3 linked regions of the Homo sapiens genome follow. The protein of the gene in region 2 purifies or fractionates together with the protein of the main gene of each other region. This does not show direct contact. Each region holds a gene or a part of one and is shown on either strand. Other genes may lie near its edges.

What was found.
Region 1: the proteins of NTF3 (region 2) and PYGL purify together in Homo sapiens (affinity purification with mass spectrometry; 2 studies listed by BioGRID and IntAct, with this or other methods). This does not show direct contact.
Region 3: the proteins of NTF3 (region 2) and PYGB purify together in Homo sapiens (affinity purification with mass spectrometry; 2 studies listed by BioGRID and IntAct, with this or other methods). This does not show direct contact.

The regions. Positions count from the first base shown.
Region 1 is NC_000014.9:50,940,153-50,950,647, forward strand, and holds the start of PYGL (glycogen phosphorylase, liver form), read right to left. Parts: upstream 4,332-10,495; 5' UTR 4,252-4,331; coding exon 4,009-4,251; intron 2,439-4,008; exon of another isoform or gene 1,953-2,438; intron 1,054-1,952; exon of another isoform or gene 649-1,053; intron 1-648. UniProt on the Homo sapiens protein: Allosteric enzyme that catalyzes the rate-limiting step in glycogen catabolism, the phosphorolytic cleavage of glycogen to produce glucose-1-phosphate, and plays a central role in maintaining cellular and organismal glucose homeostasis.
Region 2 is NC_000012.12:5,426,283-5,436,673, forward strand, and holds the start of NTF3 (neurotrophin-3 isoform 1 preproprotein), read left to right. Parts: upstream 1-5,825; 5' UTR 5,826-6,042; coding exon 6,043-6,060; intron 6,061-6,986; exon of another isoform or gene 6,987-7,050; intron 7,051-10,391. UniProt on the Homo sapiens protein: Seems to promote the survival of visceral and proprioceptive sensory neurons.
Region 3 is NC_000020.11:25,242,628-25,253,178, reverse strand, and holds the start of PYGB (glycogen phosphorylase, brain form), read right to left. Parts: upstream 5,095-10,551; 5' UTR 5,001-5,094; coding exon 4,758-5,000; intron 1-4,757. UniProt on the Homo sapiens protein: Glycogen phosphorylase that regulates glycogen mobilization. Phosphorylase is an important allosteric enzyme in carbohydrate metabolism. Enzymes from different sources differ in their regulatory mechanisms and in their natural substrates.

The sequences.
Region 1 (10,495 bases), on a different chromosome or scaffold from region 2:
GATGACCGCTGTCACAGGTAATAGTATCTTAAGCCACAAATACCCATTTGCATAGTATTACCCAGTTTAAAAAAATCCTTCCATGTGTGTATTTTCATTATCTCTATAACCATGATGTTTTGCCTTTTTCTTTTAAGTAATCTACAAAAAGCTTGTTTATATAGTATATATTCCACACTTGCAATTGTGAGGTTATACCCCCAGGAATAATGACTACATCTGTATTAAATTTGCCTCCTTTTTAATGATTCCACATTAGCACGAACTTAAGTCTTCTTAAAAATATTTCAAAGTCTCTCTTGAGAGATATGTGGTTGCTCAGAATAAAGTAAATGAGAAAATACTTCCTTGCATGACAGACTTTATAAGGACAGGAACGTAAGGTGATTCCCTGTTTTCTCACAAATAACTTCTTAGAGGTAATCTCTCCTTATATTTGGGAATATATAAGACTTCAAAAAATAGATCTTGGCCATACTCTTACTTACTGGTCTCTAAATATTTGTTACATATGACTGATAGTAAAATATATGAGCATCTCCAATATACTTTATAAATTACATGCATGTACTATGATTACTAGTATTTTATGTAAAAAGTGGATATTTTCAAAAGGCTTGTAAAATAAAATAAAGAAGATATAACAAATATTTTTAAATTGTATGTTTTATTTTTATCCCCAGCATTAGTCAGAGGGCCTGGGTACTTCCGGGAAGACCTCTGGAACACCTGTCAATAAACCTGAGACTTGCAGGACAGGCAAGAGTTGAGCATAGAAATGTGGTAGGAAGGACACTGCAAGTGAATCGGGGGCCCAGAGTGGGGATTGGTTTGTTGGGAGAGCAAGGTGGGTACAGAGGGTAATGGAAGATAACAAGGGAAGAACAGGCCCACCTGGACTGAGAAGTGCTTTCGAATACTTGCTTAAGTTCTATGGCAGGCAAGAGGAGCCAATGATAATTGAGCAGGGGCAAGATGCGTTGCTTTAGGAAGCTTGAGCAGACCACAATGCACAGAATGAGACGGGATCATATACTCAAATGCCTTCAGGAGCTAGGCAGAGAAAATAAATGTGTAATTGAGGTCACATAAAACAAAGAAGAGTACTGGGCTAAGAAATGGAGTGTGCAAGTCCTGACCACAGGCGCTAAAAATTAAATTCCTGAAAAATGTCTTGGCCAACAAAGTATGTCTGCTATCCTTATTCAGCCTCAGGCTGCCGGTTTTACCACTTCTGGAAAGCAAAATAACCACGTGAAGTCAGCTGCAACAAATGGGTAGCTAGAGCCTCACCAAGGCAGGAAGAGATAATGGAGGAGAGCACGTCATTCAAGGGAACCTATAGAAATCAACAGAAATTGGCAAACAGTTGAACGGCAAAAAGTGAGACTAAAGTTTGCGTCTGGATTGTCAAGATGACAATGGCATGAAAACAAAAAACACAGAGGCCAGTCGTGGTGGCTCATGCCTGTAATCCCAGCACTTTGGGAGGCCGAGGTGGGTGGATCACCAGGTCAGGAGTTCGAGACCAGCCTGTCCAAATGGTGGAATCCTGTCGCTACTAAAAATACAAAAAGTAGCTGGGCATGGTGGCATGCACCTGTAATCCCAGCTACTCAGGAGGCTAAGGCAGGAGAATCACTTGAACCCGAGAGGCAGAGGTTGCAGTGAGCCGAGATTGCATCATTGCACTCCAACATGGGTGACAGAGTGAGACTCTGTCACAAAACAAAACAAAACACGGGAAGATGGGGCAGGATTGGGAGAAATAATGGTTTGAGTTTTTAACGTACTGAGTTTGAGGAAATAGGAAGATATCTAGATATGTTCACTAAACACTCAGAAATGTACGCATAGAGTTAGAAAAGGAATTCAGACTAGGGATCCATATTTGGGATTCATCTGCACAGTTATTGGAGAGCAAGGGAGGTGGGAGAGGAGCTTGGACACACCTACTTGCTCTACTTTATGAGGGCAGGAACCATCCTGTTTAGACAGACGACTGTGATGGAGTAGATATTTGATGAACACGTGTGGAATGAAACATGTTCATTGTTGTATCCCCAGTGTATCGCTATCAGAATTTACACACGTCGGAATTCCTGGCTTATATCTGCACTCACGTAGAAAAGGAGAGCCCAGTGAAGAAACTGGCCGGAGAACCAGGAAAACCATAAAGCACTGCATAAGCCACTGAAGGAAAAACATACAAGATTCTCTGGTGCTCTATGATGCTAAATGCTACAGAGGCGTGAGTGTGTGTTTCTAATATATGCTCAGTGTCCCACCCTTCCGCTTAAAATTGTTAAAAATAATTTTTAATGAGAGGCGCAGTATGGTGTACTTAGTAGCATTCCCTTTGTGTAAATAAATTTTTAAAAGATAGTGGCCGAGTGTGGTGGCTCACACCTGTAATCCCAGCACTTTGGGAGGCCAAGGAAGGAGGATCATTTGAGGCCAGGAGTTTGAGAGCAGCCTGGCCAACATGGTGAAACCTTGTCTCTACTAAAAATACAAACTTAGCCAGGTGTAGTGGTAGGAGCCTGTAGTCCCAGCTACTCGAGAGTCTGAGGCAGGAGAATCGCTTCAACCCTGGAGGCGAAGGATGCAGTGAGCCAAGATGGCGCCGCTGCACTTCATTCAGCCTGGGCGAGAGTGAGACTCTGTCTCAAACAAAACAAAACAAAACAAAACAAAACAAAACAACAAAACAGTAAATATATGTATACATAAAGTGTTTTCTAAGGTGCATTTAAATTTTTAAGGATACATTTTAGCAGTTGCTACCTTGGTGGAGGCCTAGGTCTTTGGGGTGAAGAAGAGTTACTTTCCATTTGAAAACTGTTACAGTTGCAATTTCTTACTATGAGAATTTACATTCATTTCCTTTCTTAAAAATTCCTATGGGGTTTCTTGGGCACTGGGATTATAGACCATTTTTTTTTCTTCACACCTTTACATAATTAAAAAGTTCTAATAAATGTTTATATATATTTCCCACTGCCCCTGGGATGTATCCCAATCTTTTATTCTTTCCAATATGTCTCTACCTGGCTTCTCCAGTTTCCTCTCCCAATACAGACTCACACCCGCCCTCACTCCAGCCTGCACACAATCCCTCTCCCTGCCATGTCCTCCCCAGTCCTTCCCCACTGCCTCTCGCCCTCTTCGCAAACTGTCAGGCAGAGATATTGTCCCTCTGTAGGTCCAAAATCACCCTAAGGAGGTCTCTGCTCCCGCCCCCACGCCGTGGATGGAGGTGGTCCCTGACCAGCCTTCCTCAGCAGCTCTGGGGGCAGGCCTCGGGTGTGGAAGGGCTAAGGGTCGGGGGAGTGTGTGTCTTCGGGGAGGACGAGTCCAGGGCATTGCCTGGCCCTGGGCCGCCTTTGCGAAAGACTCACGGAATTCCAGGAGCTACACCCACTCAGGAGAATGGGTGGGCGGCGCTCTACGCTTGGAGCGGGACCCTGCCCCTCCTCTGCACCACACTTAGCCACTCCCAGAGGCCTGAGACTTACGACCTTTTCCCAGCTCGGCGTTTGTCTCCCCTCCCAAAATACCAAGCTCCAGCAAGGCAAGATTTTTGTCCCTTTTGTTTAGGGCTGAGTGTCCAGGGCAGAGAATAGTGTCCGGCATACAGGACAAGAGGCCCCCGTCACCTCTTGATTAAATGCTGAGAGTCAAAGTTCCAAAAAAGTTTGTGAAGTGGACAGGCGAGAGGGGCCTGGGCTTTTGCCCACCTGGCGGTTTCCAGGGGCGGACGGCACAGTGGTTTGGGCGGGACACTGGCGGGTGGCACCTCGGAGACATGAGTTCGGCGTCTGTTGGGAGGCCTAATCTGTCCCCCAGGCTGCCCGCCCACAGCCTAGACACGTCTCCTCTGGACTTCGGGGCAAGGACCGGGTGCAAGGGACCACTCTGAGGGGTTCTCCACCTCGTCCCGCCCGGCCGCGGCCGGAGACTCCGACTCCGGGCTGGACCCCGGCCCGCCGTCCCGCCCCCGGTTACCTTGGGGCACTTGTCGTAGTAGTGCTGCTGCGTGCGGATCCAGCGCCCCACCAGGTGGTCGCGCACCGTGTGCGCCAGCGCGAAGTAGTAGTCGCGGGTGGTGGCCACGTTGCGGTCCTTGACCAGCGTGAAGTGCAGGTGCCGGTTGAAACTCTTCTTCAGCTCTGCCACGTTCTCCACGCCCACGATGCCGCGGATGCTGATCTGCCGCCGCTTCTCCTGGTCCGTCAGGGGCTTCGCCATGGCTGGGGCGGCGGGCTGCGCGGCGGGCTGCGCAGAGAGCTGGAAGTGCGGCCGGAGGCGCTGGGCTGCCGGGCAGGGGTGGAGTCCGCCCCGCCGCGCCAGCAGCTTTCAACGCGCACGAAAGTTTGGGGCCCGCCCCCTCGGGCGGTGCCGTCCCCGCTGCACTCCCACCGCGTCCCGGCCCCTGCCCCAGGCCGGAGGGCAGAGGAAGTGCCCGGCCCCTCCCGAGGCTCTGGGGCCGCAGTGGGCTCGGGGGTGGGAGACGAGGTCCAAGCGCCGGCGAGACCCCTGCCAGCCCGGGACCTGGGCTCGGAGGCTCCCTTCCGGATTTCCAAAATCTGCGGAGGCAGCATTTGTTCCGCCTCTCCCCTCTAGAGTGTGGAGACAGGAGGACGTCTGTGTAGGGAAGCACGTCGTTGGCAGACTGCTGTTTTGCCGATGTTTATTTGTTATGCCATTATGACTGTTAGGATTTCTCACCTGGAGTGGCTTCCGCCATAAGCGCCGGGATCTGGAAGGACGGCACGTTTGACTTCTGTTGTCCCAACCTCACTTGCCAGCCCTTGGCACCGCCCCAGCTTGGATCCTCAGGGCGCCTCTGTTATTTTCATTCATTTTTTTTGAGGACTCCAGGGTTCAGGTTTCTTAACTCCTGGACCAAAGTTCGCCCCGCTCGTAGCACCCTGTCTCTCATCCTTAGAGGTAGGTTACTAAGAATCAGAGTAGGTGAGGTGAAGCTCTAGGGTCATTATGCGGCAGGGGCTTTTACCTTAGGCTTCTTCGAATTACGTTTTAACTGCAGTGGAGGGTGTGGGGGGAGGAGAGGGAGAAAACAGAAGGGTATGTGTGTGGAAAATGAAGGGATTACTCACTGGACTAGTTGCCTTCTTTACAAAAAACAACCCAGTCTGTGTTACTGTGCGGTACAGGCTGATCTTTGCACCTCCACTTTGGGTGGTATTTGAATATGCGTGTTTATGTGTGCTTAAACCTTGGTAAAGGCAAACACTTGGCATTTTAGGATGTCAGAGGTTTTTTCTTCCTCATTAAGTAGTATTAATATATTATTTTAGAAACAGTCCATTGCCAGAATTAAGTTTTCTTTTTCCTTTTTCTTTTCTTTTTCTTTCTTCTTCTTCTTTTTTTTTTTTTTTTGAGACGGAGTCTCACTCTGTTGCCCAGGCTGGAGTGCAGTGGCGCGATCTCGGCTCACTGCAAGCTCCGCCTCCCGGGTTCACGCCATTCTCCTGCTTCAGCCTCCTGAATAGCTGGGACTACAGGCGCCCGCCACCTCGCATTTTTTATTTTTTATTTTTTTATTTTTAGTAGAGACAGGGTTTCACCATGTTAGCCAGGATGGTCTCTATCTCCTGACCTCGTGATCTGCCCGCCTCGGCCTCCCAAAGGGCTGGGATTACAGGCGTGAGCCACCGCGCCCGGCCAATAGTCACATATATTCTTCTAAGTTTATTTGTTTGTTGTTTTTTGAGACAGGGTCTCACTCTGTTACCCAGGCAGAGTGCAGTGGCGCGATCTGGGCTCACTGCAAGCTCCGCCTCCCGGGTTCACGCCATTCTCCCGCCTCAGCCTCCCGAGTAGCTGGGACTACAGGCGCCCGCCACCACGCCCGGCTAATTTTTTGTATTTTTAGTACAGATGGGGTTTCACCGTGTTAGCCAGGATGGTCTCGATCTCCTGACCTTGTGATCCGCCCTCCTCGGTCTCCCAAAGTGCTGGGATTACAGGCGTGAGCCACCGCGCCCGGCCAAGTTTTCTAGAAAAATCTTAGTATACTTATATTAATATATTTTGTTTTTTATAATAAACCCAAGTTGATTATTTTGAATTCACACATGGTGGTGGTGGGGGGGGGGGGGGGGGCGGGTAATGGATTAATTGATTCAGACCAAATGTGACCCTCACCATAAAAGTGAAAGTTCAAAGCTCATAGTTCTGACAAAATTTCCTGAATCCTTGTCCTCCCAGATTCTGAAGTTTGGACTTGAGCTTTTGGGGCAGAGACTGAATTGGGCCTTATGCAACTCTTGCAATACCGATGACCTGCAAAGGACAGTATGGAAGAGATGAGCATTAGAGTTTGGATCCGGATGGGGCCAGAAATACCCTGAATTAAGAGTGGGAAGGGGGGGCCCATCAAAATCATTGATCTTAAAAATAAGTAAGGCCTGTGGGGTGAAATTTGAAATAAAGCAGAAAGATAAGCTTCTTTGATTATTATATAACTTAAAAAAGTGTTTATCAGCTTTGAATACCCCCAAGATGGTCACAGCATTAAGCCAGTTATGGGTCATTCGTACATAAGTGTGAAATTAGTCACTCAGCTTTAACAGCTGGATGAAAAATAGGGTAGAGCCTAGGATGAGGGAATACCAGGTCTGAGTAGGTCTTCCTCCCAGAAAGGTCTCTGAGCAGGAGAAGGCATCATAATGTCTGGGCATTGGGGAGTGAATAATTAGGGGGCACACAAGAAGGGATGAAAGACACCAAAAGCAAGCTTACTCGGTTTCTTAGTTTTGCTTAAGACAGTTTCAAATAGATGGCTCCCAGCTCCGCTGTCTACTTTCCTGTACTAAATTCTTGTTGGAAACTCAGGGTAATGATGAACTAATGAACACACTATTTTCTTGATTCACTATCCAGTCGGTGAGCCTGCACCCCCGGCTTGAACAATTCTCTATGCAGAAAAATCATGAACTATAGAATGCTCAATATATAGAGTATGGGGAAAAACTATCCATCTCCATGTTAAAAAGAACGTGATGGAACCAGGTGATTTAGGGTGTTCCATAGACCCAGTCTTAAACGACAATGAATTACATTGCAAGACAGTTATTCCCCTTTCACTTTTCTTTAAGTCTTTCTGGAAAGTCCTTTGTGTTAACATGTTAGCATTTTTTAATCTATATTTTTAACAGAATGCAGGTACAGACTCTAAAAGTTCTTGAAGTTTTAGCATCTAACTAGAATTTAATACAATTATCTTCCATTTATGGTAAATGATACTTTTTCAGTTGACATTCTGATATAAACTTTGTTTCATCTGCTTGTTCTGTGCTAGTCTAGGACACTGAGGCCTTGAGAGGTTAAGTTACTTGACTAAGAAAATTAATATCTTTAAAAACCTTTCCTTTAGCCTCTCTTGACCAGAAAGAACCAGAAACTATGGATCCCTGAAAAAGTATCAGATTTCAGTGGCTCACATGTTTATAGCAGCCTTACTCACAATGGCCTATATTATTCCTGCTTCTCATCCACTGCTTCCCCGTGGCTGCTGTAACGAAATGGCGTTTGTAAGTAGCTGAACAAACAGTCCAGAACTCATAGGACAAGTGTAAGTTTCCCACTGTTGGAAATACAAAAAAACATGAGAAAGTAGTGTGTTAGTTCGGGTCTTCAGAGAAGCAGAAGCTAAAACAGGATTAAACATGTTAAGATTTTTTACTGGGGTAAATGCTTGTGGGAGGGAAAAACGGGGAGTGCTAGCCAGAGAGAGCATCAGACTGTGATGCCAGTGTGACCTAGAGTGAAGGGGAGAGAGAGGGAAGGGTAGAAGGGCATATCTCAGACAGCCCTGTAGTCCCAGGAAGATCCAGCAGTGCTGCTGGGCAGTTCTGGAGGGCATCTGCTGTCAGGAGTCCACGGTACTCTGCTCGGTCATTGGTGGGATCATCCTCCCGGAGGCATGGCCTCTGCAGGGCTATCTGGAGCCCTGGGTCGGTTATGCTTCCTGCAGCTTGGGGCATCTATGAGGTCCTTTCTAGTGACCACCACAGAAAGATATGAGATAAACAAATACAGATTAATACCCACTATGTTTCAAAGCAGGGCCTATTGTGGTGGCATACCACTTTCAGATTATCAAAACGGCAACTAGCATTTTCCAAGGACTCTGGCAAGGCCCATAATGTGCATTACTCATTTAATCTTCTCATCAGCTCTGTGGGACAAGTTCTGTTTTTCTTTCCATTTCACAGATGAGGAAATCGAGGCTTAGAGAAGGTGAGTAGCTTGCTCAAGATCACCTCACCAGTAAGTGATGGAAGAGGTTTTCAAATCCCTTAATGTTGTTTCTCCTCCCCTGAAACAGGATTTGTGATCTGTTAAGTAAACCTGAATTCTGACTGCATCTCAGCTAACCTATTACCCTACTCACTTGTTTTGTTTTGTTTGTTTTTTTTTGAGGCGGAATCTCGCTCTTGTCACCCAGGCTGGAGTGCAATGGCGCCATCTTGGCTCAGTGCAACTTTTGCCTCCCAGGTTCAAGTGATTCTCCTGCCCCACCCTCTTGAATAGCTGGGATTACAGACGTGCGCCACCATGCCTGGCTAGATTTTGTATTTTTAGTAGAGAGGGGGGTTTCACCATGCTGGTCAGGCTGGTCTCAGACTCCTGACCTCAGGTAATTCACCCGTCTCGGCCTCCCAAAGTACTGGGATTATAGGCGTGAGCCACCGCGCCCGGCCTGTTTTGTACTGTTTATTGGTTTTTGACCATCTTCTAATCAGTTCTGCAATCTAGGGAAATGCCAGAGGTCCACAGTGGCCCCACAGACAGGTCACTAACACTCTGGAAAGGGGTGGTGTAAACCATGGGCTGAGCTTTATGCTCAATGAGGGAATTTGAGTACACTGCACTCAGCATATTTAATGTATGAATCTGTTAACCAAGGTTGTTATCCAGGCTCCGCTGTTTCAAATATTTAGAAAGATGACTGAGGGCCAGGTGCGGTGGCTCACACCTGTAATCCCAGCACTTTGGGAGGCCGAGGTGGGTGGATCACGAGGTCAGGAGATCGAGACCATCCTGGCTAACATGGTGAAACCCCGTCTCTACTAAAAAATACAAAAACAATTAGCCAAGCGTGATGGCGGGTGCCTGTAGTCCTAGCTACTTGGGAGGCTGAGGCAGGAGAATGGCGTGAACCCAGGAGGCGGAGCTTGCAGTGAGCTGAGATCGCCACACTGCACTCCCAGCCTGGGTGACAGAGCGAGTCAATTCTGAGCCAAAAGAACAAAGCTGGAGGCATCACACTACCTGACTTCAAACTATACTACAAGGCTACAGTAACCAAAACAGCATGGTACTGGTACCAAAACAGAGATATAGATCAATGGAACAGAACAGAGCCCTCAGAAATAACGCCGCATATCTACAACTATCTGATCTTTGACAAACCTGAGAAAAACAAGCAATGGGGAAAGGATTCCCTATTTAATAAATGGTGCTGGGAAAACTGGCTAGCCATATGTAGAAAGCTGAAACTGGATCTCTTCCTTACACCTTGTACAAAAATCAATTCAAGATGGATTAAAGACTTAAACGTTAGACCTAAAACCATAAAAACCCTAGAAGAAAACCTAGGCATTACCATTCAGGACACAGGCATGGGCAAGGACTTCATGTCTAAAACACCAAAAGCAATGGCAACAAAAGCCAAAATTGACAAATGGGATCTAATTAAACTAAAGAGCTTCTGCACAGCAAAAGAAACTACCATCAGAGTGAACAGGCAGCCTACAAAATGGGAGAACATTTTCGCAACCTACTCATCTGACAAAGGGCTAATATCCAGAATCTACAATGAACTCAAACAAATTTACAAGAAAAAAACAAACAACCCCATCAAAAAGTGGGCAAAGGACATGAACAGACACTTCTCAAAAGAAGACATGAATAAATGCTCACCATCACTGGCCATCAGAGAAATGCAAATCAAAACCACAATGAGATACCATTTCACACCAGTTAGAATGGCAATCATTACAAAGTCAGGAAACAACAGGTGCTGGAGAGGATGTGGAGAAATAGGAACATTTTTACACTGTTGGTGGGACTGTAAACTAGTTCAACCATTGTGGAAGTCAGTGTGGCGATTCCTCAGGGATCTAGAACTACAAATACCATTTGACCCAGCCATCCCATTACTGGGTATATACCCAAAGGACTATAAATCATGCTGCTATAAAGACACATGTACATGTATGTTTATTGCGGCATTATTCACAATAGCAAAGTCTTGGAACCAACCCAAATGTCCAACAATGATAGACTGGATTAAGAAAATGTGGCACATATACACCATGGAATACTATGCAGCCATAAAAAATGATGAGTTCATATCCTTTGTAGGGACATGGATGAAATTGGAAATCATCATTCTCAGTAAACTATCGCAAGAACAAAAAACCAAACACCGCATATTCTCACTCATAGGTGGGAATTG
Region 2 (10,391 bases):
GCTCACAAAACAGTGACAAGACTCTGGATCTCATTTCCCTATCTCCCTGTCTCTAACCCAGGATAATTCTCTGGATTGCATTGCGTGTCAGAATTTCTCTGTTCCTACAGTGTAAATTTCAGCCTTAAGCTCCACCTACAACTTGCCATTTTCGCCCAAAGCATTCAAGATGTTCTTTTGCATCCAGACCCTCCTCCAAATGAAGAAAGCTGCAGTGAAAATGCCACTGAGTTGAGGGGTTGCAAACCAAACCTCCATTCCCATAATTCAATTCTCAGGCCCCAGCCTTCTGCTAAGGCTAACAGATCCACTCCAAAATTTTAAGAGTCCACAGTGATCAAAAGCATCTGTATATTCTGAAACATGCAAATCAACCCTGTTTTTCACATTCATCTCAACATTTGGTGGAGGGCACAAGAGTCAGCTGGCTGCTGAGTGGACGCAGCTTAGCAGATGAATGGAAGGGTCAAATCCCTCTCAAGATTTGTAGAACTGGATCTGAAATATGAAATGCCAGCATACGTGATGAGAGGGATAGTCTATCGAGTGTTTTATCATCCAAAGATGGAATTAATGGCTATGCCATATCTGTGTCAGACCCCGGCAGTAAAACTTTATGGGTTCTTCCCCGTGAAATATTTTGTTTATGTCACGTGGGTCTCATCGGATGTTTTTTTCTCTTTTCTTCACTTCCCCTCCCCACCCTTTTCCCTGCCCTCTTTGTCTCCTGAGACCTATTCCCTTTGGAAATGCATTAGTTACCTAGGAAACCTTAATGTCATTTTTTTATGAGTGGAGTTTGGTGCAGCATAAAGTTAATTTATAGGGTGGTTAGGAATTCATGTCATGACTGGTGAAATAGGAGACTTTATTATGATTTCTACATCCACCTGTGTGGTAGGAATACATACCTTCCCTCTATCATTACGGGTAATTTCTTGAAACGTAATTATGAATATGTATGCCATGTCACAGAATAAGTTGATTCACCGTTGTTCAATGCAATTCATTATATTGTTCAATGTAAGCCCTAGAACATAATTAGCAATAACAACAAACCAATAATATACCAGGCAATCTGTTAAGAGTTGAAGGATATGGTGGAATTTCCTTTTAAATGATGAGGTGGTTCTGGGTGAAAGGCAGAGAATGAATAAGACGAGATTTTGAAATCCTTCAATTCTGTCTTTCATGCACATTGAGGTCCACGTTGGGAAGCTATATAAATTCTAAATATGTCCACTACTTCATTCTGCTGATTTATTTCTGTATTTGTCCAAAGGGGAAAATATACATCCATAAAATTACATTAATGAAATGTGTAGTGGCATACAAATAATAATACACAGGCCATTCCAGAGCCAAGCTTCTTTCTAAAGATAGCTCATTCCCCCAGTGGTGTGACAGTGTTTCCTGTGTAAGGACTAGCAGATCGGGACTGGCATTCACATTGTGCCAGGCACTGTGTTGAATGTTTTAAATTAATTAGTTCCTTTGGTCCTCATATTACTTCTATGAGATTGGTGTTGTCTTCACCAATTGCAGATGGGTTCTAAGAAGTTAAGAAACCTGTACAAAAGCACATGGCTACTGAGTGGAGAAGGTAGAGGGGAACCTGCTTTTCTCAGGCACCAAAATCTACTCTGGCAGTAAATTCTAGGTCGTGGTCTGTCATTATGTTTTTGTTTTTGTTTTTTGTTATTCTGAGTTTCCTCAGTTATTAAATGCAGAGTGGGGGACATAGGGGCTGATAGAAGTTTATCTCTGATGTCTGTATTCTGTGTAGAGAGATCAATGCTAGTCCTTAGAGCAAAGCTGTGCTTTCTTAAAATGACAGAAATTTGGGGGAAGACCTGGTCTTGTTAAATAAACATAAACAAGCCACTCAGTTTCTGTGGACAAGTGCATGCGAATTGAAAGAAAAGAAGAATGTCTCACAGGTGACTCCAGGTCATCTGAGAGGAATTGCTATATGGCTTGACAGCCTGTAGCTCTTGGTGAATAATGCTGTTGCCAGTATATAGAAACGGGTGGGCAGCCAGGAATCTTTCAAGTGCGGAGGCACAAAGGTAGCATGAAGCCGCCTTTCCTGACCCTTAAGCTCCCAGTCCCTGTGCAAACACCTTTTGCATTCACTTTAATTGTTTGAAAAACGAAGACTTCCAGACTCCATCAGCTCTAGCAGCTGTCTGGGTGGATGGGGGTGGGGATGGAGGGGGTAGGGCGAGACCTCCCCACAGCGCCCTCCAGCAGCAGAAGATGCAACTTGCAAATACTTCAGGATCAGTGAGAAGTGTGGTGTTTATTTTAGTAACCTCAAAAGAGAGAAAAAGAAAAGCAGTGGAAGAGGACAGACATTCAAGGCTAGCTACACGATCATGGGGAAAAAAAACAAGCTTGTCTTTGACACGGAAAGGGTCCTTGGAGGCCATTCGGTCCACTTCTCTCATTTCCTGGGTCAACATGTCACAATGAATTAACCACATACTGCCACTGCACAAGACCCCCTCCCTCACCACACGCTGAGCCCCCACCACCAGCATTCAGTCCACTGAGCTCAAACATAGGGAGATAAGTGCTGTTTTCACAAGATAAAGGCAAAATTCAATCCCACGTTGCCGTTTTGTTTCTGTTCAGTGTTCCAACCACAGAGTGGTGCTATTGCAAAAGATAAGGGTAACCAGAAGGCACGCTCTGGAAATTTGCTTTAGGAGAGAGTTTTAAAGGGGGTTTTCAAAAACAAGATCTGATTCCTGCTCTCAGAAATCACTTCCAGGAGTCAGGGCCTTACTCTCAGATGCAGCAGGGAGAAGAAGAAAGTTCAGCAACCTAAAAATACAGTCGACAGATGGGCAGCCAAAGTCATGGCCACGAAGTCAACTTGGAGAGGAGCACCTACCTAGTGAATCCTAAAAGATCTCATCCTGGATGCTTCCTTAACCAGGCCTATGTACAGGGCACAAGCTCGCAGCCAGCTTACTTTCCAGTCCTGATCTTTGCTTTTGCTATCCATACCAATGGTATTTCTATAGAAAAGAAAAATCTCTATTTAGAAACACGGATTTACTTAGAAGTCACAATATTCTAGTTTAAAAATGGCTCTACATAGTAGAGAATGATCTTTTTATTCTGTCTTCTTAAAAATACACCTTTCTAATTCTTTTTTTCTTCCCACCTTCTTCATTCAGCACCTTGCCACTCCCTTGGAAGCCACAACAGCGAGCTGGGGGGTCAGTCCCTAGTCTTAGAGGGAAGAAATCTTTAGGTCTGAAGTCTAAAGAAAAACAGTAAAGGAAAAGGCAGTTGGCGGTGCTCAAGGTAGACTGTCTGAAAGAGGTCTTCTACTCAGAAAAGGGCTAAGGCTCTCCCTTTGGGAAACCAATCCTTCTGAGAAAAAGTGCATCTTTCACCCTCTGCTCCTGTCTGGGTCTCTCCCTCTTCCTCCCTCCTTCCCTCAGTCCCTCCTCCCCTCTCTCCACAAAGACACAGCACATATTTGGCAAGATTAAGGTGTCACCTCTCATATTACAAGGCCTGTTGATTGCAAGCAAAGACAGACCCACCAGCTTAGGACAAAACCCCTTGGAGTTGGAAATAAGACAAACTCTGGGATCCCCGAAAGTCCCGGCAAAATGACGCGGCCAGCCAGTGCAAGGCATCTGCAGAACAAATCCAAGTCCTAAACGCACTGCTTGCTGCCTTTTCTTCTCCTTCCTTTCTTCTGATTTTTCAAGTTTGTTTGCCCCCCTTCCCCTCCTCCCTCCAGACTGCCAGGGACCTGGGAGCTGCCTGCAGATCAGCCCGCACATGTATTTAACCCCTTCCCTGCTGCAGCAGGAGCCAACCACCTCTTTCCTTGCAATCTTCAGGTTCCCAGAGGACCTGGAGCTTGAGAAAAGAACTCTGCCAGTGGATCTGAAACTGGGGCCTGAATCCCTCCTTTGACCAGGGCGAGAAGCTGGAGGAGGGGGGCAAGTGCGGGAAGTGGGGGAGGGCAGGGAGGCGGGCCAGATGAGAGGGAGAAAAGCAGAACCCGACAGAGCACGCCCAATCCAAACCTTCATGGTGCTGTGTGGCTGGGTGGAGGGAACGACTCGGCAGCCTCTTCTGGCCCTGAGGAAGACGTCGATATTTTGGCACGAGGGGAGCCACTGAAGGACTACCCTACCCTTGCGAGGGACCGCAGGAGGTGACGCCCCTGGGCCTCGGTGGGCGCTTCTGGCGGTTTTCGATGTGGCAACCCCCATCAGCCAGGATAATGATGAGGCAGGTACAATCTATCTAGTACGCAGCCCCCAGACTCCCCCCTCCCTTCCCACCTCCCCATCCAACCCCCCAGCTACTCTCTGCGGCCGGTTGGTCCTGAACTGGTGGGTGCAGTTCCGATGTTTAACCAAATTCTCAAGCAATTTCAAGGTATTTGGATTTTTTGAACCTGGGCCCTAACCGAAACGCGGAACGGCTTGCTTATTAGACACCTCGAACGACAGGGCAGGGAGGAAACGGGATACTCGCTGCCCTTCCCAGTCGCGCGTGAGTCAAAAGGTCCTGGCAGGAGATGATGTGAGGAGCGGCTGAAGTGGCAGGGAGGAAGGGATGAGGGGCTTGGAGCGGAGGTCCACCACGCAAGGACTCGGGAAGCGGGCAAGTGGGCAAAACTCTGCTTCCGGGCTCTCGATTTCTCGTTGATCACTAAGTGGTATTTTTCCCCCTTCTCTCGATGGCAAATGGGCGAAATCAAGATGACTTAACTTGGTAAATTTAGAGAGAACGGCTCGGAGCAAGTGAGGTCTAACGGGCAGCTAAAATTATCTCCAAATAAGAGATTTTGACCCCCTCCCCCTATCCTCTCCTCGAATGTATCCACCGGTGGGGAAGTGAGCGTCATTACTTTCGGGGCGCCACGAACAGGTTTGTTTGTTGCTCGCCTTTCCTGCTTCTCGCGCTGTCCCCGCGTGCAGACTGGTGGGTGCTGGGCGAGTGATTAGCTGCAGGGCCCCATCCTAGTTTGGAAGGAAGGGGTTTAGAAGTTGGAGGATGGGTGAAATGGGAGGCTGCGATCCATCTCCCTCTCCCTTCCACACTCAAGCTCCCGCAAACACGCGCGCGCACACACAGCCCCTCCCTAGTCCCTCGGACCACCCGCCCCCACGCCCCTCTACCTTGACCTCCCTTGACCGCCGACACAGCGTCCTGGGTGCGGGTCCCCGGGAGCGGGGAGTTCGCCGGGGAGCGATTGTCCTTGGGCGTGTTCGTGCTGTGGGGTGGGGGGAGGAGTGGCGGGTGGGCTTGGTAGGGGGTGGGGAGAGATCTGGAGCTGGAAGGGTCTAAGGTTTGGAGGAGGAGTTTACGCCTCAGACCTGATCCTCCTGAGGAAAAAGGCAGGAAAAGGCCCTGATGCCTTGTAAAGAAAATCTTGAAAGAAAAAAGATCAAAAAGAAAAATTTCAAGAAAAAGAACCACTAAGAAAGGCTGAAGACACTAACATGTAACCTGTTACGATACATTTAACGTTTCGTTTTTTCCTGGATCTCTAAAAGGGAACTCAAGGGTGGGGGTTACTGAAGAATACTACAGATTTGGAAGTTTTTGTTGCTGTTGTTGTTTGGTTTGGTTTTGTTTTTCAAGAGGGGCCAGGAGAAATGACCCCTTCCCCGCCACGGGTCCCGAAGTGAGGGCGGGGGGGGGGCTCTGGGGCGCGGGCGCGCGCGGCGCGGCGCGGGCCGGCGGGGGAGGGCGGCGCGGCGCGGAAGGGGTTAAGGCGCTGAGCGCGGAGCCATCTGGCCGGGTTGGCTGGTTATAACCGCGCAGATTCTGTTCACGGGACTCAGAGTTGAAGCTCCTCTCCCTTCCGAACAGCTCCGCGCACCGCCCCGCGACGCAGCCCGGCGCAACTACTTTCTTCTCTCTCCTTTCTTTCTTCCTCTCCTTTTTCCCCTGCTGGGTAGTGGCTGCGGCGGGGTGGGGGAGACTTTGAATGACCGAGCTCGCGTCCACCTTTCTCTTCATGTCGACGTCCCTGGAAACGGCCACACGGATGCCATGGTTACTTTTGCCACGGTAAGGGGAGGCGGCGGGCACCTTGGGTGGGCAGGTTTGGGGATGGGGGTCCACGTGGGGAGGGATTTTCCAGTGGACTGGTGCGGGGGGCCCCAGATCCGCATCCCGCCCCACCCCCATCGCGCCGCGCTCACTCACTTTCCCGGGCTTGTGTCTTCCCCAAAGTTTGCGCTGGGATCTGCTCAGGCCGAAGCGCAACCGCAGCCACCCCGCTACACACACACACACACACACACACACACACACACACACACACACACACACAGACACGGACACCCTTCTCCACCTCCTCCCCTCTTGTCCCTCGGCTGCCCAAGAAGCTTCCCTCAATCTGGGAAAGTGATCAGGTTTAAGGGACCTGGATTGGAAAGGGTGGGGGCAGAAGAGGGGAAATGGGGACGACGAAAGAGCAGGAAAGAGATTCAACAGAATCAACCACCCACCACTCCCAACCGACCCGCCTGCTCCTCCGAGAAAGCTCCTAGCGCATCCTATAACAAAAGGGGGTGGCAGACAGAACTCCGGGCGGGGAGGTGCCGCGGCAGCTCCCCTGCACACGCCCTGCACTCTGCCGGCCGCTGAGCCTGATTCTCAGCTCGCCCCAGCACCACTCTGGCCCGGGCGTGGGCTGGGGGGAGGGGACGCGCAGCTCAGGACCCGGAACCTCGCGTTCCAGTTTTGGGAGTTGGGACTCACTGCCACGCGCCGCGTACCTGCGTTGGAGTTCCCCGAAAGGGTTTTTTCAGAAAAGACCTCGCGCCCCGGGCTCCTCTTGGCCAGCGCCCACCCGGTGGCCACCCCACCCTGGGCCTTTGCGCAGATGTTGGAGCTCCGTACGCAGCCCGCACATCTGGGACCCCTCCGGGGAGCGGCGGGCACCCGGGCCCGGCCATCCCAGGGGATCTCCTTGCGGTATCGTCCAGCCTGTTCTCGGACTTTGAGCGGTGGCGTGGGAGGCCGGGAGACCTGGGCACCCGCGCAGCCAGCCAGGTCGGAGTTTAAAGGTCCCACGACGGACCGAACTGTCCCATTGCCCCAGAGCTTTACTCAGTGGTGGATGCTCCTGATGAAATTTGGGACGCTTGGGAGTTGAAGGTTAGGGACAGGAGGGGCGAGGGCCGAGGGCATGGGATGGGGGAGTAGGATTCTGCTTGTTGCTCTCCGCGGGAGTGGGTGCGCGTCCAGGAGGCGCTGCTTCTTTGCGGGAGTTTGGCTGCTGCGTTCATTCGTCGTCTGCGCTTCAGATGCACGGCACTGAGACCCTTGCGTCCGACGGTGTCGGGGCTGTGGACTAGAAAGGATCCCTTTTGCTGGAATCGAGGCTGGGGTGGGATTGCCGGTGGGGGAAACACCGAAAAGATCGTCTGGCCTCGGCCTCTGGCGGCGGGCGGCAGGTTCTGAGTCCGAATGGAGGTTGCTCCCGGGAGCGCCGGGCTCAGAGCTAGAGAGCTCGGGAGACTGTGCGCCTGTGGACTTGTTTATGTGTGTGAAGAGGCGGGGGCGAGGGCCTGCTGAGAGGGGAGGGGAGCCTGGAAGGGGTGGGTGTTTCTCCTGGAGCCTGATGTTTGTAACTCAGCTGATTATGGAGTGCACTGAGCGACCTGCTTTTTAAATAAAGAGGTGCCCGCTCCTACCCCGCAAAACAGCGAACGAGGAGAACATGGAAGCGCTCTGTCCTAAACGTCAGGATGGGAGAAAGTTGTAACATAGAGGAGACTTTTCCAGAGGTCCTGTTTTCACAACACTCAGAAGTTCTCCAGCGTACTCAGCCTGCCTCCCGCCTGCCCTCAATTCCTTTTTGACATGTCACACAAAGAAAGCTGAAAGGTAGAATGTGGAGGATAAACTCCAACCCCCTCTGCCTTGGGCGCAAACACACAGACTTAGGTATCGTGTTAGGAGGTAAGGGGGTTGGAAAATAATGCAGGCTCCGGTAGACAGTGTTGAAGGGAGATAGAAAGTCTGGGGTATTTCCCCTAGGGAGAGTGTGTGGGATTTTGTGTTGGTGAGGACTGGAGTGTAGCTGGACTTAGAGGGTTTGGTTGTGTGTGAATGGGATATGCTTATCTATGGAGTGAGATTGTGACCATTGAGTGAGTGGTCAGGGAGGGATGGGGATGTTTTTCCAAAGTGTGTGTGTGTGTGTGTGTGTGTGTGTGTGTGTAGGGGAAGGTGGCAAAAGAGCTGGAGTCCTATCCCTCTTTGGTGCCTGGGAGGTGTGTGTTTCTGGGGAGTCTGTCGGATGGGCATCTGTGTGCTTAGCGGGAGACAAGAGCTTGCAGGAACATAGGTGTAGCTAATGCGAAATCTGTGCCTATGAAGGGTGTCAGAGCAGGAGGAGAGGTGCAGCCTGTTGAAGACAGATGGCTTGTGCATGCCTGCACAAACACATGGAGTGGGTGTGGTGTAGGAGGGCGGCTGTGTGTGTGAGGGAAAGGTGGATGCATGTGGAAGGTTGGGCGCCTGAGGATTACCAAAGGGATGTGTGTGGGGGGTGGGGGAAGATTATCTGAGGAGCACGGGGTTTGAACTTCATGAGGGTGCACTGGGAAATTTGGCTGGAATGGCACTGGGGCATGTAGGGGGTAGAAAAGTGTGAGCTCAGATCCTCTTTATGGAAAGACAAAGCATTTGCAGGGAAGGACACCGGGTTGGTGTTGGTGTTTGCCTCCCCCCTCCTTCCTCCCCAGAGAGAAGAGAATTGGAGGAGGCTTAGAATGAGGGATGTACATTTAAGGGGAAAAGTCCTTGTGCATTGGCACTGGGTGGGAACAGGAAGAGATGTGTGCATAAGACTGAAGTAAGTAGAGGAATGCACTATCTGTGCCTGGTGTCAGGGATGCATGTTGTATAATGTTTTGTAATGGGTTTCTTATGTAATAGGAGAATTCACTATCACCAGTTCATATTGATAATCAATTAAAGCTAATGGAGTGCCTACTGGATGCTCAGCCCATTGCTGGGTACTGGGGCATGGCACACTGCCCTGGAAAAATTCCTTCTCCAGGCTCAGTAAAACTGATGCAATTTTGCCAGAAATAGACAGAGCTCGACGCTTGTTGAGGTTTCTTCAAGGTCTATAATTCAGTTTCTAGAGATGTTTATGGATCTTGGGGGCCAAAGGGAAGCTGACTTGAAATATATCTCTGGTTTTGTAAAAAGTGGGGCATAAAGAGAGGGATGATGTAGACTTTTGTGTATTGGGAAGGGAGCTGGACGGTGTTGTTGTTTCTTGTGTGGGGTGTGGGCTGGGAATTGGAGGGTGCTGCACTTCAGGTCAGAATGCAGGTCCAGATCCCTCTAAGGATTGAGTTTCTAAGAGTACACAGAGCCTCCTTCATAGCTGGAATGAGACCTGTTATGTGGAGCTGGAGAATGGTGAAGTCATGATCAAGGAAGAGATGGACTGGGAGTGTTTGTTCATCTTTGATGTTTTCTGGGCTACGAGTGTAAAGCTAACCTGAGTGTGTGTTGGGGGGGTGGGTATGCATGCAGGTGCGTGCACATGCACTTTGGCCTGGAGTAACGTAACTGGGAGAAAACTAGCGAGGTGGATAGGAGGGGTGGATATTCTGGCTCTTGTGAAGGGGGTGCCAGTATGTGTTTTTGCAGGAATTCTGTGTGTCTGGGGAAGGATAAAAATTGTCTTGGATACTCAGATGTGCATCTTTAGCGAAAAAAGGTGTACACAAAAGAAGGGCCGTAGACTTTGGGGAATGAGACAAAGGTGTCGTTGATCGGGTCCATACCCTGAGATGGCTGGTGAGGCAACTGGGTAGGAACAGAGTGAAGGCTGTGCTTTTGTGATGCACACATCTGCCTGTCTGGAGCAGACGATGGGGATCCCCATTTGATTAGGTTCTGACCACCGTTGGGCATATGTTTGGGAGGACTTTATTTGACTCATGACATTTTTGAATTCATGAAGTTACAGCTGTGCCATTTTAAGGGTCTACCTTATTTTTGAGAGGGAAACTCATCTGTGTAAGAGATAGTTTATATAGGGCTTGACTATTGGTCAGAAGATCCGGGGCAGATATTTCTGAGAGCAGGGTGGTGAAGTGCAAGACTGGATTGGGAATGTCTTAGTTCTAGTCCAGTTCTACCACTTGGGAAAAGTGTGACTTTGGGGACATTTTTAATCTCTATAACTCTTCTGTTTCTCTTTTTGTAAAGGGGCAATATAATGACTCAAGGAGAAGGAAAGTTCACTCCTCTTTTCCCCCATCAAAACTTGATGTGTTTAGTTGTATACAGCCATACAAAGATGAAATGTAATTAAATACAGGTGCTAGCACGTATGTAGGTCATTGTGAAAATAGGATCTGGAC
Region 3 (10,551 bases), on a different chromosome or scaffold from region 2:
GGTAGCTGGTGGCAGGGTTTGTTCTGCAAGGCCTTCCCCCATGGGAGGCTGTGAAACTGTGATGTAATGAGATATACTTATTTGTTCTTCCTGGCCTGTGCTCCTAACACCCTTGTAATTTCCTAAGTGATAAGAGCAATAAAAATGAAAGAAGTGTCTTTTGTTATTCATAACAAGTCCCTTTCAACCACGCCTGATGTGGTCACCAAAAGGTGACTTTTGGCAAGCCCCTCAGGGCAGAGGCTGGCTGCCAGGGGAACCAGCTCTAATTAGAGGGTTGGAAGTTTCAGGCCCACCCCTCCCGCCAGCCCCAACCTCCAGTGAAGGGAGAGGGGCTAAAGGCTGAGCTCATCACCAATGGCCAATAATCACACTAGGTAACTGCGGCCTCCATAAAATCCCCAACTGAAGGGGATGGAAGAGCTTCCTTCCAGTTCAGTGAATCCTGGAGGTGCTGGGACAGTGGCACCTGCAGAGGGAATGGAAGCCCCTGCACCCTCCCTCAGACCTGCCCTCTGCATATCTTCTATCTGGCTGTTCCTGGGTTGTATTCCTTGTAAGTAATTGGTAAACGCAAGTGAAGTGTTTCCCTGAGTTTCATGAGCCATTCTGGCAAATCATCAAACCTGAGGAGGCTGTCGGTCAGAGGTCAGAAGGGAGGTCCTGATGTGCAACTGACATCTGGGGTGGAGAAGTCTTGTGGGACTGAGCCTTTAGCCTGTGGGATCCGAGGCTACATCTAGGTAGACAGCATCAGAACGGAACTGAATTGTAAGATGCTCAGTCAGTGTGGGAAACACCACCCCCCGACCCCCCCAGAGGGACATCCACGTTACTATCTAGGCACAACAGCCAAGTTGACACATAAAACCAGCCACCACAGCCTGCAAGGGCAGAGGCCAGGCTGTCTTCTGCAGAAAATGAAGGCACACACTGTAGGCTTCTCCATCTGCTAAAATGACAGCTGAGGCCTACCTTCCAAGTGGCTAGCTGTCAGCAACACAAAACAGCACCCACCATCAGCTACTGGTCAGAGAAAATGACTTTGAGCGATCTGCTGTCAGGGAAGCCTGCCCAGGAGATGCAAGCTCAACTTCACACATAAAAGTGGAAATACATCAGAAAAATTGGGAGTGTTAGGATTCCGGAGGCTGGTACCACAACTGACTAATTAAAACAAATCCCAGAAGTGGGGATCACAGAGCAGAAGGGTCTGCAAAACACTTCTCTAGATCATCTTCTTTAACTCCTGGGTCCAGCCAAACCAAAAGATTAATCGTATTTCATTGTGTTTATCTCATTAGGAATATTTAGGACAGCAGTGTGGGCCCCAAGGTAGAGCTGCTTTTCCTTAATCTGTGTTGTAGTCATGCCAGGAGCTTATGGGAAGAGTCTCAAAAACTGATTGTTACATCCACTGCAGGGGTGCTGCAGGTCAGTGGCTCAGCACATCGACAACACAGCTTCACAAAGGCCCACAGAATAAACCGTGCAACTGTCCTTTCAGGATGTTATAGAAGGGATCCCGTGACTCTCATAACTGGGCATGGGCTGCTTTCACTGCCAGGATCCTGGTCTGTGTTTTGTGTCCTGACCCTCACTGTCCCACCCCAACCCTCACTCTGAGGCCTTCTAATGTGAACCTTTTGTGCTGTATCTAGCATAAGCATCCTCAAATTCTCTCTGGATAGAGATGGAATGTCAATTCAATATGAAATAGAAACATTTTAACTCTAACATTTCAGAATGGCAACAGACTTCGGAAACATCACCAGCTTGATTCCCCTCATTTTAAAGATGAGAAAACTGAGGCCAATAATGGCAAAGAAATCCGCCCAAGCCCACAGTTGCACAGACCGAATGGAAAGGCCAGGATGAAAAGGAGCGTGGAATCACGCACACCCTTTCTTCTCCATGCAGCGCAATCCCAGGCTCTGCAGCTTCAGGTTGGACTCTCCTTGCCACCTTGCCACCACTTCAGAGAATCCATTAAATGTCTTCATGACCAACCGCCACCTCTTGCCAAGCACAAAGCTCTCCATGTTAGCCAGATGTTTTGACGTGCTGATTTGCCAAGCATGGCAAAGCTTGACAAATCTTCCTCTGAACACCCCAACTTCTACTCTTTCGCTATGTACCACAAATAAAGTGCTAAGAGTTATGAAACAATAGGTTCAGTATAATGTTATTTTATGTATTAAAAACAAGTTTCTGCCAATACGGAAAAAACAATGTAGAACACAAAATATTTACAGCACAAAGTGGGCGATAGAAGTGGGTTACAGGATTACAGTTAATTTTTTTCCTTCTGGCTTATCTATATTTTCTAATTTTTCCTCCAGTAATAATTTTTCCTTCAGGACTTGCATAATTTAAAAAAAGACAAAAATAACAATAAAAGCGTTCTATTTAGGAGCTCTAGAGTGTCACATTACCACAGTCTGCAGTGTGCCGGTGAATGTCTGAGGTCATTTCTGGCTGAGGGGGAGGCACAGCAGTTATTTTCTTGGGAGCACACCTCCTCTCATTGGCTCTGGTGGGACTGGTTGCTGGTCCATCACCAGCAAGCATGTAACTTTTCCAAAGAAAGGATTGCAAGCTTATTTTCATCATGAATTAGCGAAAGAAGCAGTTAAATCCCAATTTTCCATGTCCTTCCTATTCAGAATAGGCACACAGCTTATTTACACACTGTGAGATCTAAAAGTTTACAACTTTACGACTTACAGACTGTGCGGTTTAAGAGAAAGGTTTCCACCCAGAGCCACCACACGTAGACAATCAAAAGAGATCTCACGGAGGATCAAAAAACCTGTTTTGTTGCAGGGACTATCTTGTTCATGAAGGTCATTTCCGTAATCCCTGAGCCCATCGCTGGCCTCTCCAGGATGTGATTATACATAAATACTCCAATGGGCACCCTAAGGTGTAGAGCTGAGTCCTGGTCCAGCTCCAAGGAAATGCCCTTGAATGTGAAGGCAGAGCTATGTCCTTGCCATCCGCCACTTAGACAATAAAAATGATGTTGCGGGTCGGGTGCGTTGGCTCACGCCTGTAACTCCTGCACTTTGGGAGGCCGAGGCGGGCGGATCACGAGGTCAGGAGTTTGAGACCAGCCTGGCCAACATGGTGAAACCCCGTCTCTACTAAAGATACAAAAAATTAGCCGGGCGTGGTGGTAGGCGCCTGTAATCCCAGCTACTTGGGAGGCTAAGGCAGGAGAATTGCTTGAACCCGGGAGGCGGAGGTTGCACTGAGCCGAGATCGCGCCACTGCACTCTAGCTTCACGCTACAGGGCAAGACTCAGAATTAAAAAAAAAAAAAAAATGGTGCTGTGCATCAGAACTCTCCCAACAGCAGGGAATTCTGGGGGAGCCACTGCTTCTTGGCTGCTTTTCCTGGCAAAGTCATCCCAAGCCCTTGTTATAACCTGTTTTGGCCATTCGTTGCCACTTCTATGTTTTGCATACCAAATATGAAGAGCCCCAGTTGGTATTCTAACAAATCTGTCCCTTTTACCATCTCCATTTTAGAAAAAAGAATGTCCCAGAATAAGTTTGGAAAAGCAGTCAATCTCTTAGCAATTACCGTATTAAACATATCTTAATGCCCTACAAAAATATTCTAAAATACCATCCATAAAGCAAGTGCTCACTGCCTAGATGTACACTGCAAGTAAAATCTTTGCCAAGTGGCTTCAGGTCTGGAAGTGTGTCTTTTCCTCACCAGTTCTCCCTCTACGTTAGTGTAGTAGAAAGACAATTCTCCATGGTCAAGAGTTTAAAAGCAAACGACAACAACAAAAAACTGGCAACAGGGGGCTGTGCAAGACTACCATGTACCTATCAAACTGAAAACTACCATCCTATCCATTGACCTGCAAAGCTGTTTATCAGTGAAAAAGTTACAAATGTTTACGAATGAAACAGAAAATCTAAAAAACTGTATGTGCATTATACTTTTTAAAAATGTGTATGTATATTTAGGAATACCAAAAACACAGCAAGAACACAGGCCCATAGTAAACATGGTTAAGAGTAACGGGGACAATCAGTGACTTTGTTTCACTACTCAAACAAATTTTTGCAAGATATAAAAAGTAACAATTAGTAAGATGATCTCTGTCAACTTCAACCCAAGCAAATTTCTCCAAGGGAGGTGTGGGAACCTCTAAGACAGAGCCTTCTTCGAGGGCTCCATCTCCATCTCTGAGCTTCGTACCCCTCCCTGCGTGAAGCAGGCATCTTCAGTGATTTTCTTCTAAGCAGCGTACACAAAAAAAAGTCTCACAATTCCCTGCAGATTACCGAGCTCACCCCATTCCAACCCACAAGGCTGCCCAGGCCTGGTTCCAGTCCCATTTTCTCCCACAGGCTGCTGCAGGAAAACAAAGAGTGGCTGGAGGCAGGGGCGGGGAGCACCGGCTCTGCAGCCAGCGCGGAAGCGCACGGCCAGAAAGAGACCGGGAACGTCCGCCAGGCTCCCGGGCTCAGCATCATCTGCGGGGGACGGCGGACCCCGCCAGGCGCGGGCTCCCAGTGGGGCGGACCCGTGGCCGCGGCCCTGCGCAGGGGACGCCCGGGCCCCGCCGACTGCGGCTTCCAGGCGACTCCCCAGTCGGCTGTGCCTGGCCGCCGGCCGGCTAGGGGCGCAGGTAACGCCCGACGGGCCGCCCCGCAGAGACCCCCGCTGGCGCGGCTCCGGGACCGGCGCCCTCTCAGCGGGCACGGGCGCACAGGGCGGGGCAGCGCCTCACCTTGGGGTCGCGCTCGTAGTAGTGCTGCTGCGTGCGGATCCAGCGGCCCACGAGGTGGTCGCGCACCGTGTGCGCCAGCGCGAAGAAGTAGTCGCGGGGCGTGGCCACATTGCGGTCCTTGACCAGCGTGAAGTGCAAGTGCCGGTTGAAGCTCTTCCGCACCTCGGCCACGTCGCCTAGCCCCGCCAGGCCGCGCACGCTGATCTGCTTCCGCTTCTCGCTGTCCGTCAGCGGCTTCGCCATCGCGCCGGCGGAGGCGGAGGAAAAGAGATGGAGGAGGAAAGCGGCGGCACACGCGAACGCCGGGATGGTGCAGCTGCTCTGGCGCCGCTGCTCTGGCGCCCGGCACTGCGGCTCTGCGGGCGGGATGGACCGCGCCTGCGCGCCGCGCCGGGGCGGGGCCTCGGGGGGCGGGGCGGGGCCTCGGGAGGGCGGGGCGGGCGTCCAGGCTCATAGCTGAGATCTCTGGTGTAGTCCGAGGCGGCAGCGACCTGTCCACGCCACCTGAGCGTGGTGTTTGCCCCCTCGTTGGGCAAGCCCGGCAGAAAGTGGGAGCGACTGGAGGGGGCAAGGGACCCGGGGCCTCGGAGCGTGCCGTCGTGGCCGCTCCTGCCAGCCCGGGGACGGTGCGGGAAGGGGGCCCTGCCCTCCGGCCCTCGGGTTCCTGGGACCGGCCCTCCCGCCCTGCACCGGGTCACCAGGTGCCCCGCGGGAGCGCGCTGGGCTCGGGCTGTGGCCGAGACCTGGTACACGTTCGGGGAAACTGATTACAGCTTGAAAGGCATCCACCAACGCCTGCTGGGCCCGGTCTTCTCTGTCCGGGGCAGGGCGGCTCTGAAAATACCAGCTATTTGCTTGCCACTCCAGGCCGATGACAGACGTGGAGAAAACCAGCTGCCAGCGAGCTGGAGACGCCCGTTCCCGAGGGCGCGAGGCAGCCACAGCCAAATGCCACCACGACCCCGCCTCGGAGGGACCGCAGCCCCCTAGCCCTCGGAGAAACCCTGTTCCCGAAACCACCTGGCAGACGCTGTCCGCTTTGAGATTACAGCAGGGAGAAGGAAACATGCCCGTCTGGCCGGGGAGCTCAGCCACTAACCGAGACTTAGCCTCTGTCATCCCAATCCAGGCTGCAGCTCCAGATAGGGGGCGTCTGCACACAGCTTCCCACACTTGGCCCCGCGGAACACAGTCCTGCTGGCCTCAGCCTGTGGGAACCCTGCTTCATGTAAAGGTCACCTAAACTCTGCCTTCCCTCAACCCCTTCAAACTCTGCCTTTCCCTTCGTTCTTGGGAGGCGCTCCCTCATTGCAGTGGGTCAGTACACCCGATTTTGTGGACCACAGGTTTGCTCCTGGTGGTCTTGGGCTGAAGGGGCTGCAAAGGTTACTGAATTTCGTGGAGGTAAAAATTGCCCGCAGGAAATGTCATGAAAGTCCAGGTGCAGTAGGTTTCCTGGTGTGATGCTTCAAAGTTATCTTCTTACCTGGAGCCCCTTCCAGCTGCAGACTTCAGAGGTCGGAGGTTAATCAATCTGGAATGACCCCACAGCCCACCCAGCTCCAGCTCGGGATTCACTCCTGCACTATGTCCTAGGGATTCTGGAGCCAACAAGATCGAACTTCGGGCACAGATGGCAGGGCTGTGGGGTCGAGCTTGGCTGCAAGCTCCGAACACTGATGCAATCTCTCTGAGGGTGATCTGGCAATTCAGAAGTCATAAAAATGATAGTGCCCTATGACCACTTCTACCACTCTGGGGAATTGAGTTCAAGGAAAGCTTAAGAAGACAAAAAGCAAGTTATGCAAATATGTTATCTGCTGTGGTGTGGTAAAGTTTAATCCCCCAGCTGTGGTGCACACCTGGCAAAGAATGGAGGCGCTGACACTTATTGATCATTACTTGCAGTGTACACGTATTAACTCCTGATCCCTGCAAATAGCCTGCTATTACCCCCGCTTGACAATGGAGAAGGTGAGCCACAGAGAAGTTAACTCTTCCCTAAGCCCACACAGCTAATAAGGGAAACAGCCAAGGTTCACCCCAGCCAAGCCCTGCTCCACTGCACAAGCCCAGAAAAATGTATCTGTGCTCAAAGTTAATATCATAAACCATTGTGCTGCTAAAAGGAATGACTGTTTTAATAGCTAGCTAGGAAGGTGTGATTGATGACACAATACTGATAAATGAAACACAAAAATAAGGATGTAATGCAGAAATGACAGTAATGATTTGAATATTACTTTCATTTAGTCAATTTAAATTTAAATTAAATAACCACATGTGGCTAGGGACTACTGTGTTAGAAACACAGGTGTATATCCAAACCTAAACACTGGTTATTTCTGAATGGAAGAATTATCAGGGGGGTTATCTTATTTTCTCCATACATTTTGTATTTCCTGTTTTTTCCACAATATTTCTTTTGTAAGTGGAGTAAGTTTTAGTAAGAAAAACTAGAGGCCACAGACTTCACTAATGGATGCTGATTTAAGGCCTATATATTCTCTTACTGGATTGACTTTTAATTCTTTGTTACTCTGGTTAAATAAATTTTAAGTCCTTTCTTTCATAGCTACACTTTATTAAATTTTCCATGATCCTGACAAAAATTCTTTGACCAAACTCTAGTCAGGCTTCTGAGCCTTGTAGGGCCATCATACACTTCCCTGTGACATCTGTTTTAGCAATCCCTGCTTTGTCAATTTAGCAGGATTCCCTGCCCCTGATGTCTGATCCCCCTTGGTGACATCTGATCAGGCTCCCCATGCTCCACCATCCCCCATGCTGTCCAATCACCCTGGCCTGCCTTCAACAGGAATCCTATGAGGTGGTTTAGACACAATCACCTGGACCCCTGAAGTGTCCTCTTAGTAACTGTCCATCCACTGACCCCTCCCCCAGTCCTTGGCTATAAATGCCCACTTGCCCATGCTGTTTTCGGAGTTGAGCCCAATCTCTCTCCCCTGCTGCAAGATCCCGTTGCAGTGGTCCCTGTACCTATCATGATGGTTGTGAATAAAGTCTGGTACCATGCTTTAACAAATGCTATTGATTATTTTTTTTCTTTAACAGTTATCTTACCCAGATGTCATTTCCTCTTCCTGGGAGCTGCCATGGTCCTTCCCCTCTCCTGCAGCACTTAGTCCAATACTGAATCTTCATGATGTGACTCTTCATAATGCGCATGGTTGACGCAGGAAGGAGCCCTCTCACCATCATGTCTCCTCACCTCCTCTGGCCGCTAATATTGCTGAAGTGGCTAAATGAGTCCCAGTATTAATTATCTCAGCCATTTTCAGGTAATTTATTTATTTATTTATTATTAATGTTTTTGAGATGGAGTCTTGCTCTGTCACCCAGGCTGGAGTGCAGTGGTGCAATCTCCGCTCACTGCAACCTCCGCCTCCTGGGTTCAAGCAATTCTCCTGCCTCAGCCTCCCATGTAGCTGGGATTATAGGCACTCACTACCATGCCCAGCTAATTTTTGTATTTTTAGTGGAGACAGGATTTCACCATGTTTCTGGGCTGGTCTTTAACTCCTGACCTCAGGTGATCCGCCCGCCTCAGCCCCCCAAAGTGCTGGGATTACAGGCGTAAGCCACCGCACCTGGCCATCATTTTCAAATAAATAATTTTTAGATAGTTTTAAGTGTTGTAAAGAAAAGCAGGTTGAGCTGTTAGTTACAGGAGGTGATATCTCAGCTGAGACTAAAAAAAAAAAATGAAAGAATGGACCAGGTGCAGTGGCTCACACCTGTAATCTCAGCACTTTGGGAGGCCAGGGTGGGTGGATCACTTGAAGTCACGAGTTCAAGACCGGCCTGGCCAACATGATGAAACCCCGTCTCTACCAAAAATACAAAAGTTAGCTGGGCGTGGTGGCGCATGCCTGTAATCCCAGCACTTGGGAGTCTGAGGTATGAGAATCGCTTGAACCCGGAGGTGGAGGTTGCAGTGAGCCGAGATTGCAGTCTGGGCGACAGGGCAAGACTCCATCTAAAAAAAAAAAAAGGCATGAATGAATCTGGGGGAATAGCAAATGCAAAGGTCCTGAGGTGGGCATCCACTTGGACAGTTCACAAAAGAGGCATCTGAGGGGCATTGGGATACACCACCCCAAAATATGCCTCTTCGCATGTGGATTATTTTGAATTAAAGGCCATTAAGAACCAGCAGACCACAGGAAAGGCTCTAAAAACCATTTTCATTTTGTAAAAAAAATTCACATTTATTATAAAGGAAATTTCCACGTCTCCCTCTTCCATGCAAGGAAGAGGATATCTTGTAACAACTCTTATCAGTGGAAGAAAGTACTGACTTAAGTCTGCATAACAAACCTTCCTAAACAACCCTTGTTTACCATACTTTTCCTGGGCACCTTCTGCTGAGGTTTGAATATACCCTCCAAAACTCATGTTGAAATTTAATTGCCATTGTATAAGAGGTAGGACTGTTCAGAGGTGATTAGGCCATGAGGCCTCCACCCTCAAGGATAGATTAATGCCATTGTGGGAGTGGGTTGTTATAAAAATGAGTTTGACCCTCTCTTGTTCTGTCTCTTTCACCCTCTCTTGTACTTCCACCCTCCTTCCATGGGACAATGTAGCATAAAGGCCCTCACCAGATGCCAATGCCATGCTCTTGGACTTCCCAGTCTTCAGAACCATGAGCCAGATAAGCCACTTTTCTTTATAAATTACACAGTCTGTGGCATTCTGTTACAGCAGCACAAATAGACCAAGACACCTTCCCACTACATGCCTCCCCTGCCCAGAAGCTCCAGGCCTTTTCCTTTATGTCAGCCTAAGATGATAGATGAACCCAAGTCCTGACCACACTTTGGGTTATTCATTGCCAGGTACTGCCACATGTAAGTGCAATGCACATGCCAATAAACTTGTTTTTTTCTTGCCTGATTGAATTGTCTTTGGCTGGTGTAATTAGAGGCCCCCTAGCTGGAGACCCTAACATGGGCTGGGGAAAAGATTTTTTTCCTTCTGTAAATAACCAAGAGTTGGATTCAGCTTCATCTTCCATTTTAGCAACAAAACTGCCAGGCTTCAGAACAGGCAAAATGGAAAGAAATTGGGCTATGCTTTTATTTTATATAAAGCTGAAAAGCAGTTTTGCCCTTCTAAGAGAAAGGATTGTTCTGGCAGCCTGGATCAGAGCAGTGATCAGGCCAGAGCATCTGCTAACCTCAGCATCAGGGAATCCCTGTTTTAGACTGTCCTCTACGTCTCTGTCTTCTCCTTTTGGGAGGTAATTTTTAAAAAATCACTAAGAAGGGATGGATGCTGGTTCTGGTTTCGTTACTGTTGTAGGGAGCTATTCTGTGTTGCTGGAGATAATACATTACCTTTAAAGTTCTTTTATCTTTTTGTTTTTGAGACAGGGTTTCATGGTGTTGCCCAGGCTGGAATGCCATGGTGTGATCACGGCTCACTGCAGCCTCGATCTCCCAGGCTCAGGTTATCCTCCCACCCCAGCCTCCCAAGTAGTTGGAACTACAGGTGCATGCCACCACGCCCAGCTAATTTTTGTATTTATTATAGAGATGAGCTTTCTCTATGTTGCCTAGGCTGGTCTTGAACTCATAGGCTCAAGCCATCCACCCAACTCGGTCTCCCTAAAGTGTTGGGATTACAGGCATGAGCCACTGTGCCCAGCCTGAAGTTCTTTAAATAGGTATTTAAGATTCTGTCTGTAGCAAGTCCCCTGTCATCTGCCTCAGAAAAAGAGATGAAAGATGTCTTGTGAATGGAAGAAGATGCTGTGGGACTTAGAAGC